Linked DNA regions of Homo sapiens: region 1 is linked to region 2. Evidence: fine-mapped expression QTL. A gene starts in region 2. The other region holds a variant in brackets. All regions are shown on one strand. Distances are from middle to middle.

Region 1 (8,000 bases), 39 kb before region 2:
AAAGTTTATGTGTTGGAAACTTAATCCCCATTCTAACGGTGTTGAGAGGTGGGACCTTTAAGAAGTAATTAGGTCATGGAGGCATCATTCTCATGAAAGGATTCAGGCCATTATCACTTGAGTGGGTTAGTTATAAAAAGGATGAGTTCGGCCTGATTTCTTCTCTGTCTCTGGCTTGCTTCTGCCTTCTGATGTGGGGTGGTCTCCTCCAGCTGCCGGTGTCATGCTCTTAGACTTCCCAGCCTCCAGAACTGTGAGCTAAATAAATATCTGTTCTTTATAAATTACCCAGTCTTGGGTATTCTGTTATAGCAGCACAAAATACACTAAGACAGCTAATATTTTGTTGGGAAATTGTTTGTAGTTTTCTTGTTTTGTGTGATGTCTTTGGTTTTGGTAACAGGAAAATACTGGACTCATAGAATGAGTTAGGAAGTTTCCTTCTCTTCAAGATTTCTATTATTTATTCTTTACATATTTCATATAATTTACCAGTGAAGCCATCTGAGTTCTTTGTGGGGAGCTTTTGTTTTGTTTTGTTTTTTGAATTTTGAGATTGTTTCATTTGAAGGTCACCTTAATGCTCTTAAATTCAAAAATATGCTAATTTAAATACCAAATCCTATTAATCTAAAACACACATTGCAAACATACAAATATCTCTTCTCTTCACATGTCAGTGCCCATTCATGTCATGGTTTGGAAATGGGGACAGTAGATTCCCCTTGAGCTGCAAGTCAGCATATGTTTCTTTATAGTTAACTTTAGCAAAATTTATACAAAATAGTAATTAACAATAATCTTCTTTATTTGTTAACTCAAAAGAAAATACCTTCAAAACTGCATTTTAAGTTTCTGTACTAAAATACAGAAAAACTACACAAATATTGAAAAGTTGAAAGTTCTTTAATTTTTTTATTCCTGTTATCACTACCACAATTTACAGGGCAATATACTTGATGTAATGAAAAAGAAACAGACAAAGCTACAACAGATAAAAGAGCTCAGGAATGTACGTCTAATCGACACTATATTGCATTCATTAATAGCTGCACTTTTGCAAACTGTGGCTATGATAGTCCTGCACAAGAAGGGTTTTCTGTTTAAGCTGCAATAACTTTTCTGACCATGGATCACCATTCCTTCTGTGGCAGATTTTTACAGTTCCTCTAATGCATTTGGGATGACTATCTCAAATAACCTGCAACTTTTGTGACAACTCCTTGTTCTTTCTCCTGCTAAGAATTGTAGCCCCTCTCTGCTGTTTTTAGAACCTTCTGCTACCATATCCGTCACGTCTACCGCCAGATCCGTAACCACCACCACCACAGGAACTCCCCGAGCTTCTTCCACCAAAACTGCACCCTTTAATGGGTTCATAATTTGATTGTTTTTGTCTGCTAAAATTTCCAGAATCATTATAGTTCCCACCACCACCATAGTTACCACTGCCAAAATTTCCTCCTTCATTGTAACCATCATATCCTTCACCACTATCCCCATACCCGCCATTGTGGTTTTCATATCCTGGTTCACCATCTCCATAGCCCCCACTACTGCTGTAGGCAGGCCCACCACCATTGTTGCCCACCGTCACCTCCACATCCATTATATCCACCATTACACCCTCCATAACCACCTCTGCTGCCACCACCTCTACTTCTACCACCAGAGCCTCCTCTTCCACCAAAGTTTCCACCACAGCCAAAATTACTTGCACCACTTCCAGAGTTTCCTCCACAACCCATAAAGTTGTCAGATCCACCTCCATCACCTCTGTGATCCTGCAGACTGCATCTCTTGTTTAGAAAGGGCCTTTTTCACTTTACAGTTGTGCTTGTTAATAGTGTGGTGTTTCTAAACAACAGTTTTATCAATTGTATCATGATCATCAAAAGTTAAAAGTGCACATTCTCTCTTTTTCCACTCTGTCATCCATAACTTGTATGGTTTCAGTCTTGCTATAGTTTTCAGAGTAATTTCTGAAACTGTATCTACTTTAATACCACCAGCAAAAATGTTCTTCACTGTTAGGTGGGCACCAGGCTTTACAGAATCCTCTCTAGAAACAACTGTCTTTGGTTCCACTCCACACCCATCAACCTTGTGTGGTCAAGCACACATTGCTGTGTCCACCTCTTCAACACAAGAGAAAGCCATAAAACCAAAGCCCCTGGAATGTTTGCTTGGGGTTCTGTCATTACCACACAATCTGTGAGTGTGCCCCCTTTCTCAAAATGTTCTCTTAACCCATCATCTGTAGTTTTAAAGCTCAGACCACCAATAAACAATTTTCTCAGCCGCGCTGGATTCCTTTGGATCATGGCCTTCCTCCTCTTGGCGGCAGTGGCAATGACAACGGCCAGAGTCAGCCTAGGGGCAACCGGGTAGTGGTTTTACCTCCATTTTAAGACTAGACTTGCCTCCTCCAACTCAAGTTCAACATGGAACTGTGAGGAAGAGGCTGTGGGAAGCTTTTTAATACTAATTCAATTTTTTTCTTTTTTTTGGATACGGGGTCTCACTCTGTTGCCCAGGCTGGAGTGTAGTGGTGTGATCTTGACTCACTGCAACCTCTGTCTCCCGGGTTCAAGCCATTCTCCTGCCTCAGCCTCCCAAGCAGCTGGGATGACAGGCGCCCGCCACCACACCCGGCAAACTTTTGTATTTTTAGTGGAGACGGGATTTCACCATATTGGCTAGGTTGGTCTCGAACTCCTGACCTCAAGTGATCCACCCACCTTGGCCTCCCAAAGTGCTGGGATTACAGGCGTGAGCCACTGCACCGGGCCCAATTTTTAAGCTAATAAATCTGGTCAGTTTTAAAATTTCTTATTGAATCAGTTTTAGTAATATGTCTTTATAAGAATTTGTTCCTTTTGTCTAATTTTTTAGTATAACATTGATTATTATTCCCTTATAATAATATTTTTGAGATCTGTTCTTTATTTCTGATTTGGGGATTTTGTATCTTCCCTTTTTCTTGGTCAGTCTAGGTAAAGGCTTATGGATTTTATCTTTTTAAGATCCCAGCTTTTAGTTAGTTTTATTGATTTTCTCCATTATTCTCATTTAATTAATTTCTGCTCTGATCTTTATTATTCCATTCCTTCTTCTTACTTTGGCTGTAATTCACTTTTCATTTTCTTGTTTCTTAAGGTGGAAGCTTAGATGATTGATTTGAAACCTCTTTTCTAATATAGGCATTTAAAGCTATACATTTCCTGCTAAGCAGTTTTTTAGCTTCACACCATAAATTGCGATGTGTTATGATTTTGTTTTCATTTAGTTTAAATATATTCTAATGTCTTTCATGATTGTTTCTTTGACTCTTGGGTTATTTAAATGTGTTCTTAAATTCCAAATATTGAAGATTTCCCAATTTCTTCCTGTTGTTGATTTTTAATTCTGTTATGATTGGAGATCATACTTTGAGTGGCTTCAGTCC[G/A]TCTGAATTTATTCAGACTTGTTCTTATGTGGTCTCACATATAGTCTGTTCTGCCAGTTGTTCTCTATGGCCTTAAAAAGTACATGTATTCACCTGTTACTAGGACAAGTGTGCTGGAAATGTCAGGGCAATTTGGTTGATAGTTTGTTCAAATCTGTCTTTTGACTTTCTATCTAGTTGTTTTCCGTGACGTTTTGAGTATTGAAAGTTATTCACCTTGAGACCTTGTGTGCTAGTGAGACCTTTATGATTTTGGTCTCACCTAGCTAAACCAGCTTGGGTCATGAGATCCTAGTGAATTTTTACAGGGTGACACTAAAGAAAACACTGTCAATTCAGGTAATAGAGTATATGTTAAATAAAAGTCTTCAGGTATTGGCATTTTAGGAAAAATAAACTTAGCTATGTGTGCTGCAAGACTGTATGTGTTTCTGAATCCTCTGCTTCGAGGGAAAAATCATATTAGTAGAGGATAAGTTTACTCAGTACTGGAAAAATTGTGTAGATTTTAGGAACTTGTTGGAGCAGAAAGGCGATTAATTGTGAGAAATGAAAGTCAATTTTAGTGGCAGCAGGTATATCAAGTACATCAAGTCTTAGTTCAATGTTTATAGATTTTGAAAATTTATAGGTTCATTATTCCTTTCATTTGTTTCTTCTTTTGTCCCATTTTTGTCAAGCATGTATTTATTTTGTTTGAATCCTTTTTTGTCTCATGGACTGAGAAGAAAATATAACTAAGGTTGGATTATCCCACAATTTGCTCTGTGTCTAATTATTCTGAGGTGGATTGTAATGAAGCCAGCAAGACTTATACATTGGAATTTTAAATGTATGGGATTGTAAGGAGGGTAGAAGCTACAAACCAAAGATAAGATATGCCTGCAGATCTGCTTCAGATTTCCTGAGGGCAGTAGATGAAATTATTTCTAAGGGCCTTTTTCACCACTGCTCTTTAAGTATATGAGTAATAAACAAAAAGAACAAAGTATGTGGTTCAGAAGGAATAAAACAAAAAAGAAAGAAAAGGATCAATGAAATAGAAGTATTGTGTCACCCCATGAAAATTGTCTTCCTGTTGAGAGCTCACTAGAAATAGAAACAATTGTTTTTTATCTCCTTGTATGACAATCTCTTAACTGTTTCGAGATGATTTACTTGCTTCTTAGGCTTCCATTAAAAATAAGCACATGCTTATATGGGGGAAAATGCAAATAGTAATATAATAGCATATAAAGTTAAAAAGTGGACATCTCCTTCTTTATTGTCTCCCTCCCTTTGAAACTCTGCCCATACCCACATTCTGTGTCTTCATAGGAATAACCCTGTTCATCCCTACTGATGCCCTGTATTGTGATCAAGATGGTTAATTGTTTTAGGGTATAATAAATTGGGGATATAGTCAGAGACAGTACATTTTGGGAGAACCCTCCATTCCCAGTGGCATCAAGCAGCTTGATCAAAGAAAAGAAAAAGGTGTACACCAAGATGAGATGAGGCATACTTAGTAAGCAATAATAAAACGTCAAGATGTCTTCATGCATATAATCATGACAATGTTGGATGTGATATCTCATCCCTGTACATCTGCATATATATCTTATATAGCATGTTATTCTTTCTGCATTTCCCCCTTCAATAGAGCTTTATTGTAACCATTTCCATCTCTGTAAAATTAAGGGAGGGAGGGGATAAAAGAGAGTTCTAGACTGTCTACTCCCCTAAGTGGCAGCCAGTGCTAAATACACAGCTTATGGGTTTAAACTGAACGAACAACAAAAAGACATGTTCATTCCTTAGGCTTTTAGAGGAATAAACCAGTGAGGCCTACACCATTTATTCATCCATTCAACAATTATTTGTTGAATGCCTACTGTGTGCCAGTCATACCAAGATACAGACAGTAAACAAATAAGAAAATATATGTCAAATGGTGATAAGCATTTGTGTTAGTGTCCTAGTGCTGCAGTAATGGAGTTCCACAAACTGAGTGCCTTAAAGCAGTGGAAGTTTATCCTTGCAGTTCTGGAGACTAAAGTCCAAAATCACAGGACTGCTTCCTTCTGAGAGGTATGGGGGAGAATCTGTTCAATGCTCTCTTGTAGCCTTTGGTGACAGCTGGCAATTCTTGCATCCCTTGACTTATAGATCCATTACTGTAATCTCTCCTTCTCTCTTAACAGGGGAGTTCTTGTATGTCTGTATCCAAGTTTGCCTCTTCTTATAAGGATGTCAGTCCTATTGGATTAGGGCCTTTCCTAGTGACCTCATCTTAATTTGATCACACATCTGCAAGGACTCTCTTTCCAAGTAAGGTCACGTTGTGAGGTTTTGGTAAGGACAGGAATGTGGGGGCGGGGTGGGGATACTATTCAGCCCATGACAGCACTATAGAGAAAAGTTAAAGCAGGATAGTGGGATAGGGAATGCTGGGTTGAGATGGGCTTATAATTTTATGTAGAGGATCAGGGAAGTCCTCACTGTTGAACTGAGAATTGAGGATAGTGAGAGAGAGAACCTAGTGGATATCTGGGAGGAGAGCTTTGCAGACAGAGGGAGCAGCATGTTCTTGAGAAGCTCAAGATGACTATGCTTGGCTAGAAGCATCAGGGAGGTCCGTGTGACTGGAGCAAAGAAAGTAGGAGCTGAGAAGTCAGAGAGCTGGCTGGGGTACATATCACATAAGGCCTCCTAGACCTTTTGCTTTTCTCTGAGTGAAATGTGAAACCATTGAAGAGTTTGAAGTAGCGAATGATCTGGTTTTATATTTCATACCATGTTGAGGAAAAGGGCAAGGTTGAGGTAGGCAGATGAGTTAGAAGGCTTCGGCGTTAATCCACGTGACCGGAGGTAGTAAGAAGAGGTCCGATTTTTGATCTGTTTTGAAAGTAGAATTGTCAAGTTTTGCTGATCATTTGAATGTAGAGTGTGTGAGAGAGAAAAAGTTTAAAAATAACTCCCAAGATTTTTAGTCTGAGCAACTGGACGAATTGCCATTTGCTGAGAAGGAGAAGATGGTCATGCAGGTCTGGACTTCAGGAAAAAGGTCTGAGTTGTATGTATAAATCGTGGAGAAGGAGCCATAGAGACTTTAAGACATGAGACTGGAAGAGATCCTTGAGTAACGGAGAGGCATGGGATCTAGGGCACAGGTGGAAGGGGTAACTTAGATAACACACAGACAGTTCAGCAAAGGCAATAGGATGGAAGGCAGACTATATGGGTGCAGATGCAGGTAGGTGACTACTTTGAAGAATAATTCGTGGAGGGGCCGGGTACAGTGGTTCACGCCTGTAATCCCAGCACTTTGGGAGGCCAAGGCGGGTGGATCACTTGAAGCCAGGAATTCAAGACCAGCCTAGCCAACATGGCAAAACCCCATCTCTACTAAAAATACAAAAATCAGTCGTGCATGATGGCTTGGGCCTGTAGTCCCAGCTACTCAGGAGGCTGAGGCACAAGAATTGCTTGAACCTGGGAGGCGGGAGGTTGCAGTGAGCTGTGATCATGCCAGTGCACTCCAGCCTGGGCAACAGAGCAAGACTCTGTCTTAAAAAGAATTCCTGGAGGAGGTTGGCATAACCTGGTCCATTATGGTAAAGGTGGATAGGAGAGGGCCCAAAGAAGGGCATTCTAAGGAAGGCAACCACCTAAGTGATGGCGTGTCCTGATGTTATTAATGGGACTTTCTCCAGAAATAAGCAGTGTTGTTAACTGTTGTTTTGCCCCTTGAGTATCTTTTTTTTTTTTTTTCCGAGATGGAGTTTCGCTGTCGTTGCCCGGGCTGGAGTGCAATGGCGCGATCTCGGCTCACTGCAACCTCTACTTCCCAGGTTCAAACAATTCTCCTGTCTCAGCCTTCCTGAGTAGCTGGGATTACAGGCATGCACCACCACACCCAGCTAATTTTGTATTTTTAGTAGAGACGGGGTTTCTCTGTATTGGTCAGGCTGGTCTCGAACTCCCGACCTCAGATCATCCACCCGCCTCGGCCTCCCAAAGTGCTGGGAATACAGGCACGAACCACTGCGCCCGGCCTTGAGTTTCTTCATTGGCATTTCTGACAACTTTGTATCCATTTCTCTTCTGCTTTCTAATCATCTTCTAATTTACTTCTCAGGTCTGTCTTTTCCTTTCCATCTTATCACTATCCGAATTCAGGCTTTCATTATTTTATCATTGGACAGTTCCAGCATCCTTCATTAATAACCTTCAAAGTTCTCCTTCATTCCTGCCCATATGTTTGTACAGATTTAAGTTCTTATAGCACAGATTTTATTCTGGGTCAGCCCTTATTAATTACTCCCATTCAGTCCCCCATTCAAGGCTTGCCACAATCTGGTCCCATTCTGCCACTCCCGACCCATTCTTATACAGATTCCCTCTGTGAACCTTGTATTCAAACCATGTTCCTGCTAATGCCCTTGCAGCATCGGCTTTCTAAAGCTGATTAACTCTTTTAAAAAAATGGCCATTCTTATCTTTACCCCCAAATCCTACTCTAAAGAGATGCTTGTGATTTGAGAACCGGTATATCTTTGGATCCCAATGC
Region 2 (8,533 bases):
GAAGACTCGACATTTAAATATTACAATCAGGCCCAGTACATCAAAAGGTTTTTCAGGACAGGAAGGCACTCAAGTACGCAATCTCTGTAAACCCACTAGAACCAGTCCATGGTCGGTGGGCTTCTTAACAGGAGAAAGTTACTGAAATCACTCTCTTGTCCAGTCAAAGCTATAGTTATGGCTGGTAGAGTTCAGTTAGTCAGCATCTGGTAGGGCTGCAAGTGTTTTATTAGTGTTTATGGTGAGGCCACTGCTTGTTTAGCTGCTAGAGAGAAAGAGAATCCTTGTTGCAGTTAGAACCTAGTTTATTCTTTAAGCGTAGGGGTGCATAACTTAACCCTTGCCTGGCATGGTAATTTGTTATGTTGCTGCCACAAAGAATCTGTTCTGTCAATCTTAGGATCTCTATTTTAACTTTAATGCGGGTCAATTGTCTGTAAACCAGAAAAGGGAGGGGAGTATAACAAGTCGTGTCTAACCTGCTGTCCTGTCATGGCTGGGAACTCCGTTTTTAAGAATTTTCTGGGGTCCCCTTGGCCAAGAGGGGGTCCATTCAATCTGTAGGGGAGGAGTCTTAGGATTTTATTTTTAGTTTACATTCTCCCCTTTTAGCCAAGATGTGCCAGAGGCAACACTGATGACCAAACATTTATTTTGTCTCATGTCACTGCCAGGGTGGTGTCGTTACCTGCCCCAGGCTCATTTTGTTCTTTGGTGGGATCCCTGTGGCCAAGGGACTTGGAACCAAAAGACTTAAAACTAATTAAACATTGGAGGCCAGATGAAGATGGAGGTTCACAGGCACGCATTAACCCTTAAAAACCTTTTGAGCAACATAACCAAAAAGCAGTGTTACAAAAGTGACTTGTCTATGAGTTCTGTGTGTTGAGCCATGAGCTGTTTGGTAATCTGTATGCCCATCTTTAATTTGGAGGGTCTGAACTAATTTTATCTGTTGAAACTGGCCCTTACAATCTCATGTGCCCACCCCTTCTGTGATAGTCCATGGGCCTACTGGGAGGGTGCTTGATACTGTATTGCTTTAGCAGTAGTGCCTTGGCAATGGAAAGCAGATTGGCCTAGGGGGATTGAATAGTTTTCAAATTCTAGAGATACTAGGTAGAGAGAAAGGTAATCTTCAATGTTTTACCCAATTTCTGTAAGCTGTAAATAGTTTAAAAGAAAAAAGGTTTTATTGACTCTGAAAAGCAAAACATGAAGAATTAGCAATGTTTATTTGATTTTGAGGACATTTGTCAAAGATGTTCAAAGGCTCAAAGCTTTTAATCAAAATGGAATTACAGGTCATTGTAATAGTTATTCATTAAACCAAGAGTAATAATCAAAAGACTTTAAATGCAATATGGAAAGTCACATGGATGTAAAAACCTTAACCCTTTTAAAGCTTAGTTTTCCTAAGTAATAAAAAATCTAATAAAGAAAACATGGGAATTATCTTGATAAAATGTAAAATCTTTGGTTCTTAGGCCAGTTACCAAAAAGGCAAAGAAAAACCTACAGTGTGGTTGCTTCTCCTATGAGAAGCCCATTTAGATAACTTGGAAATCAAACTGTAAAAAGTTTACTTGAATTAATCAGACACAAGAAGAGTGTGTCTGGGGTCATGAATGAACTTTATGTTATGGAGGAAACAGGAAACTAGAAAACTGTACCTTGAGCCGGGGAATACATGACTCTTAATAACAGCATGGGAAGTTTTCTGGTTATATGGAACAATTCGGATATCAGGAAAAGCCAAGAGTACAGAATCAAGGTATACTGTAGGAAAACATTGCTCTTCGAGACCTTCAAGATAAAACATTTTAGCATCAGGCCACAGTGGCAGTTAGAACCAGAGGGAAAAAGTTACAGGAGCTGGCAAAACAGTTGAAGGGAAAAGTTATCATCTCAGGCCTTCTCAAAGGGGGAGAAAAACAAAGTAGCAAGACGCAGCAAAAGTGGAACTTCCAAGATACTAATCTGAGAAGTTTTCAACAAGAAACAGGTTTAGAATTAAAAATCAAAACCTCTTTTAATTGTATTAAGAGTAAATCATATTTTAAGACAACTTTCTTTTAAAACAAGGGACCAAAATTTAGAAAGACTTTTATAAATAATTTTAATTATAGCCAACTTAATCCCACACAAAATGCTTTTCATAAGTATTCTCTCACAAACCTTATCACAACTTAGACCATCTATAACATGCTTGTACTTTCTGATTTGTACTAAATTTCCCCTTTCCTTAATAACCAGTCATTTTACTTTAGGACAGAAATTTACCCTGCAAGATACTTTCATATATGAAATTATTCTCTTTTGAACCTTCCTTACCAAAAATACATCTTCATAGCTAACTTTTTTCACATCTCTCCTACTTACTGGTTTTCTACCTTCTTTCATAACTAACCTTTAAATAACATCCAAATTAAATAAAATTATTCTTTTTCTCCATAAGAACACATTTATTTGGCACATTTTATATATAGAATTCTATATTAACTAAAATTCTTACTCTTAGTAACCTTAAATTTTAGTGAAAACCTAGGAGGCAAGAAATATTGAATTGTCTGTTCTCTATCAGCACTTTAAAGATGAGAATCACGTCACAATTTTTAGAAACGTGTTTCTGGCCAAGCATGGTAGCTCATGTCTGTAATCCCAGCACTTTGGGAGGCTGAGTTTACATTCTCCCCTTTTAGCCAAGATGTGCCAGAGATGACATTGGTGACCAAACATTTATTTTTTCCCATATCTTTGCCGGGGTGGTGTGGCTACCTGCTGCAGGTTCATTCTGTTCTTTGGTGGGATCCTTATGGCCAAGGGACTTGGAGCCAATTAAACATTCTAGGCCAGATGAGGATGGAGGTGAACAGGCACTCATTAACCCTTAAAAACCTTTTGAGCAACAGAAGAGCCAAAAAGCAAGGTTACAACAGTGACTTACCTGTAAGTTCTATGTGACGAGTCATCAGCTGTTTAGTAACCTGTATGACCTGTTAACCATTTTTGTAGCCTGTGAATATCAGATGTTCATTTAAGTCAGAACCTTAAACATGTGGATATTTTTGCCAACAACTCAGAAGCTAACAAAACAGCTAACAACTTAGCTGTTTTCATTGAACCAACAATATTAAATTAGTCTTATTTGTCAAAAAATTCACACAAAGATCATTCTCTTTTTGACTGGGTTTATAGTCTTATAATCTTTTGTGCCAAATCCTGATACCTTAAAACACCTAGCGGAGGCAAATATAAAATAATCAGTAAACCCAGACTAAAAAAAAAATGTATGCTGACAATTCTGAAGACATTTCTAGTTTTATTTTACCAATAATTTTAAAACCATTTTATTTACCAGATTACTAAGTTCACATGAATCTGAAAAGTATTTGGACTTACTTAATTTATGAGTATAATTTACTTATAAACCAGTTTGGTACCATGCTAGATACAACACAACATAATACATGTTCATATACAAACATTTAAACACATACACACAAAGATCTTACAGCTTTTACTCTGGAACCTTAGCCATGAGATGGTAATACAGACTCACCACTTAACAAAAGACAGCTGGATCCAAATTATTTCTGACAAAATTGGGACCTGTTCACATGGCTAAACTTTATTTGTCCCAGTAGGTAATCCAATGAAGGCTATGGACCAAAGTCTTGGGAAAAGTAGTTTTCATGGCAGTTTTATTTTTAAAAACCTTTTACCCCTTTTTTTTTTCCTGAAGTTTCAAATGAGTTTTCAGTGTTTACATTTTAGCTACAATTGGCTGAACTGTAAAGAAAGCTCCAAGTAGCCTTGAATTAGTAGTATCATAAACAATGAGTTTTATCTTAACAGCAGTAGCTTAATAACAGCAAATTCAAAGCAGGCCGAAAACAAAAAAGAGATAGCTTTAGAAAACTCTACATTTTAATTGTATAGTTGCAGGTTGGGCATTTGAGCTCTGAATTTTCCTTGCTGTAATTTGCCCGTTCAGTTTTAAAATGTGCACAAGAACAGGCCACAATATGCAGCTAGCTGAAGTGCTGGAAAACCTGGCATGCCTTTGAACTTCTACAGGAGTTCCTGCCCCTAGTGGGTAAGTTACCTATTGCACTGACTTTATGAAGATATCTCTTCCAGTGCCCTTAGTGTGAGCATCCCCACAAACCTTATGAACCAGTTGAATCCAACCTGAATGCCTCTCCATAAGCCCGGAGCCCACAAATGCATTTTCTCCAGGGCCCTTGGATGGAGGGAATCAGGAAGGCCTCCTCCAAACCCAAGGCTAGGAGAGATGTTCCCTCCGGGGTCCAGGGAGGAGAACAGAAAGGACTGAGAAGAACTAGGAATGCCCTCCCAAACCCAAGGCCAGCAGGAGGGTCTCCTCCGGAGTTCCACAGATGGAGGAGGCCTAAAAGAAGAAATCAAGTCTGCAACCTAAAAGTGGGAGATCTTGGATTTTGATAGCACTTACCCAGATCCTTTCCCAGCATAGTCAGGAACAACTGGACTTTTTCAAAGGGACCTTGGCTGTACCTGGTGTCCTGGGTGACACAGGAAAAGGAATTCAGGGGCTGCTTCAGAATCCCATCTTTGCCAGATACGTTAACTTTAAAAAAAAAATCATAAGATACAAATTTAGAAAAATGGAGACACTATTTCTTAAGGGTGACAGCCTGCCAGGTGGCCATCCTGCAGGCCAGGAAGCACAGCCTCCTCCAGCAGAAGCCCAGAGACAGGCACCTCCAAGGAGGAGGGGTTGGGGTAGGAGTTTTATGCTTTTATGCTGAATGGGTTGGCTTAACACATATTCAACAGGTTACAGGAGGAGCTATGAATATTAATGAAAGTGGTCCTGATGCATGCATATTAAACATGCATCTTACATATGACACATGTTCACCTTGGGGTGGAGACTTAATATTTAAATATTGCAATCAGGCCCTATACATCAAAAGGTCTATTCAGGACATGAAGGCACTCAAGTATGCAATCTCTGTAAACCCGCTAGAACCAGTCATGGTCGGTGGGCTCCTTACCAGGAGAAAATTACCGAAATCACTCTTGTCCAATCAAAGCTGTAGTTATGGCTGGTGGAGTTCAGTTAGTCAGCATCTGGTGGAGCTGCAAGTGTTTTAGTATTGTTTATTTAGAGGCCAGTGCTTATTTAGCTGCTAGAGAAAAGGAAAACTTGTGGCAGTTAGAACATAGTTTATTCTTTTAAGTGTAGGGCTGCATGACTTAACCCTTGTTTGGCATGGCCTTAGGTCCTGTTTGTAATTTGGTATCTTGTTGCCACAAAGAGTGTGTTTGGTCAGTCTTATGACCTCTATTTTGACATTAATGCTGGTTGGTTGTGTCTAAACCATAAAAGGGAGGGGAGTATAATGAGGTGTGTCTGACCTCTTGTCCTGTCATGGCTGGGAACTCAGTTTCTAAGGTTTTTCTGGGGTCCTCTTTGCCAAGAGCGTTTCTATTCAGTTGGTGGAGGGGACTTAGGATTTTATTTTTAGTTTGCAGCCAGGGTCAGTACATTTCAGTCACCCCCGCCCAGCCCTCCTGATCCTCCTGTCATTCCTCACATCCTGTCATTGTCAGAGATTTTACAGATATAGAGCTGAATCATTTCCTGCCATCTCTTTTAACACACAGGCCTCCCAGATCTTTCTAACCCAGGACCTACTTGGAAAGGCATGCTGGGTCTCTTCCACAGACTTTAAGCTCTCCCTACACCAGAATTTAGGTGAGTGCTTTGAGGACATGAAGCTATTCCTCCCACCACCAGTAGCCTTGGGCTGGCCCACGCCAACTGTGGAGCTGGAGCGGGAGGGAGGAGTACAGACATGGAATTTTAATTCTGTAATCCAGGGCTTCAGTTATGTACAACATCCATGCCATTTGATGATTCCACCACTCCTTTTCCATCTCCCAGAAGCCTGCTTTTTAATGCCCGCTTAATATTATCAGAGCCGAGCCTGGAATCAAACTGCCTCTTTCAAAACCTGCCACTATATCCTGGCTTTGTGACCTCAGCCAAGTTGCTTGACTATTCTCAGTCTCAGTTTCTGCACCTGTCAAATAGGGTTTATGTTAACCTAACTTTCAGGGCTGTCAGGATTAAATGAGCATGAACCACATAAAATGTTTGGTGTATAGTAAGTGTACAGTAAATACTTCCATTATCAGTCCCTGCAATTCTATTTTTCTTCCTTCTCTACACAGCCCCTGTCTGGCTTTAAAATGTCCTGCCCTGCTTTTTATGAGTGGATACCCCCAGCCCTATGTGGATTAGCAAGTTAAGTAATGACACTCAGAGACAGTTCCATCTTTGTCCATAACTTGCTCTGTGATCCAGTGTGCATCACTCAAACAGACTATCTCTTTTCTCCTACAAAACAGACAGCTGCCTCTCAGATAATGTTGGGGGCATAGGAGGAATGGGAAGCCCGCTAAGAGAACAGAAGTCAAAAACAGTTGGGTTCTAGATGGGAGGAGGTGTGCGTGCACATGTATGTTTGTGTTTCAGGTCTTGGAATCTCAGCAGGTCAGTCACATTGCAGTGTGTCGCTTCACCTGGCTCCCTCTTTTAAAGATTTTCCTTCCCTCTTTCCAACTCCCTGGGTCCTGGATCCTCCAACAGTGTCAGGGTTAGATGCCTTTTATGGGCCACTTGCATTAGTGTCCTGATAGAGGCTTAATCACTGCTCAGAAACTGCCTTCTGCCCACTGGCAAAGGGAGGCAGGGGAAATACATGATTCTAATTAATGGTCCAGGCAGAGAGGACACTCAGAATTTCAGGACTGAAGAGTATACATGTGTGTGATGGTAAATGGGCAAAAATCATCCCTTGGCTTCTCATGCATAATGCATGGGCACACAGACTCAAACCCTCTCTCACACACATACACATATACATTGTTATTCCACACACAAGGCATAATCCCAGTGTCCAGTGCACATGCATACACGCACACATTCCCTTCCTAGGCCACTGTATTGCTTTCCTAGGGCATCTTCTTATAAGACACCAGTCGTATAAGGAGCCCACCCCACTCATCTGAGCTTATCAACCAATTACATTAGGAAAGACTGTATTTCCTAGTAAGGTCACATTCAGTAGTACTGAGGGTTGGGACTTCAACACAGCTTTTTGGGGGATCATAATTCAACCCATGACAGCCACTGAGATTATTATATCTCCAGAGAATAAATGTGTGGAGTTAAAAGGAAGATACATGTGGTACAAGGGGTGGTAAGGCAAGGGTAAAAGGGGAGGGAGGGGATTGAACTAGACACAGACACATGAGCAGGACTTTGGGGAGTGTGTTTTATATCTGTCAGATGCCTAGAACAGCACCTGAAATATGGGACTCAATCATTTTAGTCCCCTTCTTTCTATAAGTGTGTGTGTGCGGATATGTGTGCTAGATGTTCTTGCTGTGTTAGGAGGTGATAAACATTTGTCCATGTTATATAGGTGGAAAGGGTCAGACTACTAAATTGTGAAGACATCATCTGTCTGCATTTATTGAGAATGTGAATATGAAACAAGCTGCAAGTATTCTATAAATGTTCACTGTTATTAGATATTGTATGTCTTTGTGTCCTTTTATTCATGAATTCTTGCACATTATGAAGAAAGAGTCCATGTGGTCAGTGTCTTACCCGGTGTAGGGTAAATGCACCTGATAGCAATAACTTAAGCACACCTTTATAATGACCCTATATGGCAGATGCTCCTGAATGTGTGTTTCGAGCTAGAAAATCCGGGAGTGGCCAATCGGAGATTCGTTTCTTATCTATAATAGACATCTGAGCCCCTGGCCCATCCCATGAAACCCAGGCTGTAGAGAGGATTGAGGCCTTAAGTTTTGGGTTAAATGACAGTTGCCAGGTGTCGCTCATTAGGGAAAGGGGTTAAGTGAAAATGCTGTATAAACTGCATGATGTTTGCAGGCAGTTGTGGTTTTCCTGCCCAGCCTGCCACCACCGGGCCATGCGGATATGTTGTCCAGCCCAACACCACAGGACCATTTCTGTATGTAAGACAATTCTATCCAGCCCGCCACCTCTGGACTCCCTCCCCTGTATGTAAGCCCTCAATAAAACCCCACGTCTCTTTTGCTGGCTCTGGGTCTCTTTGGCGTCTTGAACCTTATGCCTTCCCTATTGAAGTTAATAGGGGTTCAGCACAACACTGGGTCCCAGGCATGCAGCCTTGTCTTTTTATGTTTGTCCTCATGGGCATCATGTGGGCCACAGGGATCTTACCCAAAATCATGCCTAGCAGGAAGAGATGCCTCTCTATTGATATTCCAGCTGCCCCACAAGCAGGTATGTGCCTACTCATTCTCTGACATGTGTCCTAGGTTTCTTGACTGTAAAATTCCGCTTAATAAATAATGTATTGAGCACCTGCTATATCCAGAGCTCTGCTGGGCACTCTGGAAGATTAGAGTTTGAAGAACACACATTCGTTGTCCTCCAGAAGTTCATGGTCCAGTAGGGAGAGAAGGTCACAAACAGCCA

Evidence for each region.
Region 1: its variant is fine-mapped to the expression of LINC01963 in whole blood (TOPMed, PIP above 0.99).

Annotation. Positions count from the first base shown.
Region 1 is chr2:216,173,627-216,181,626 of GRCh38, forward strand. All of the region lies in intron 16 of XRCC5 (X-ray repair cross complementing 5), which reads left to right. It also overlaps the pseudogene LOC100421349. Among named protein-coding and RNA genes, the nearest start is that of LINC01963, 39 kb to the right of the region's middle. The variant G/A (reference allele first, on the strand shown) is at 3,449.
Region 2 is chr2:216,212,060-216,220,592 of GRCh38, forward strand. LINC01963 (long intergenic non-protein coding RNA 1963) reads left to right here and starts at 4,830. Exons shown (of 1, transcript NR_037701.1): 1 at 4,830-8,133.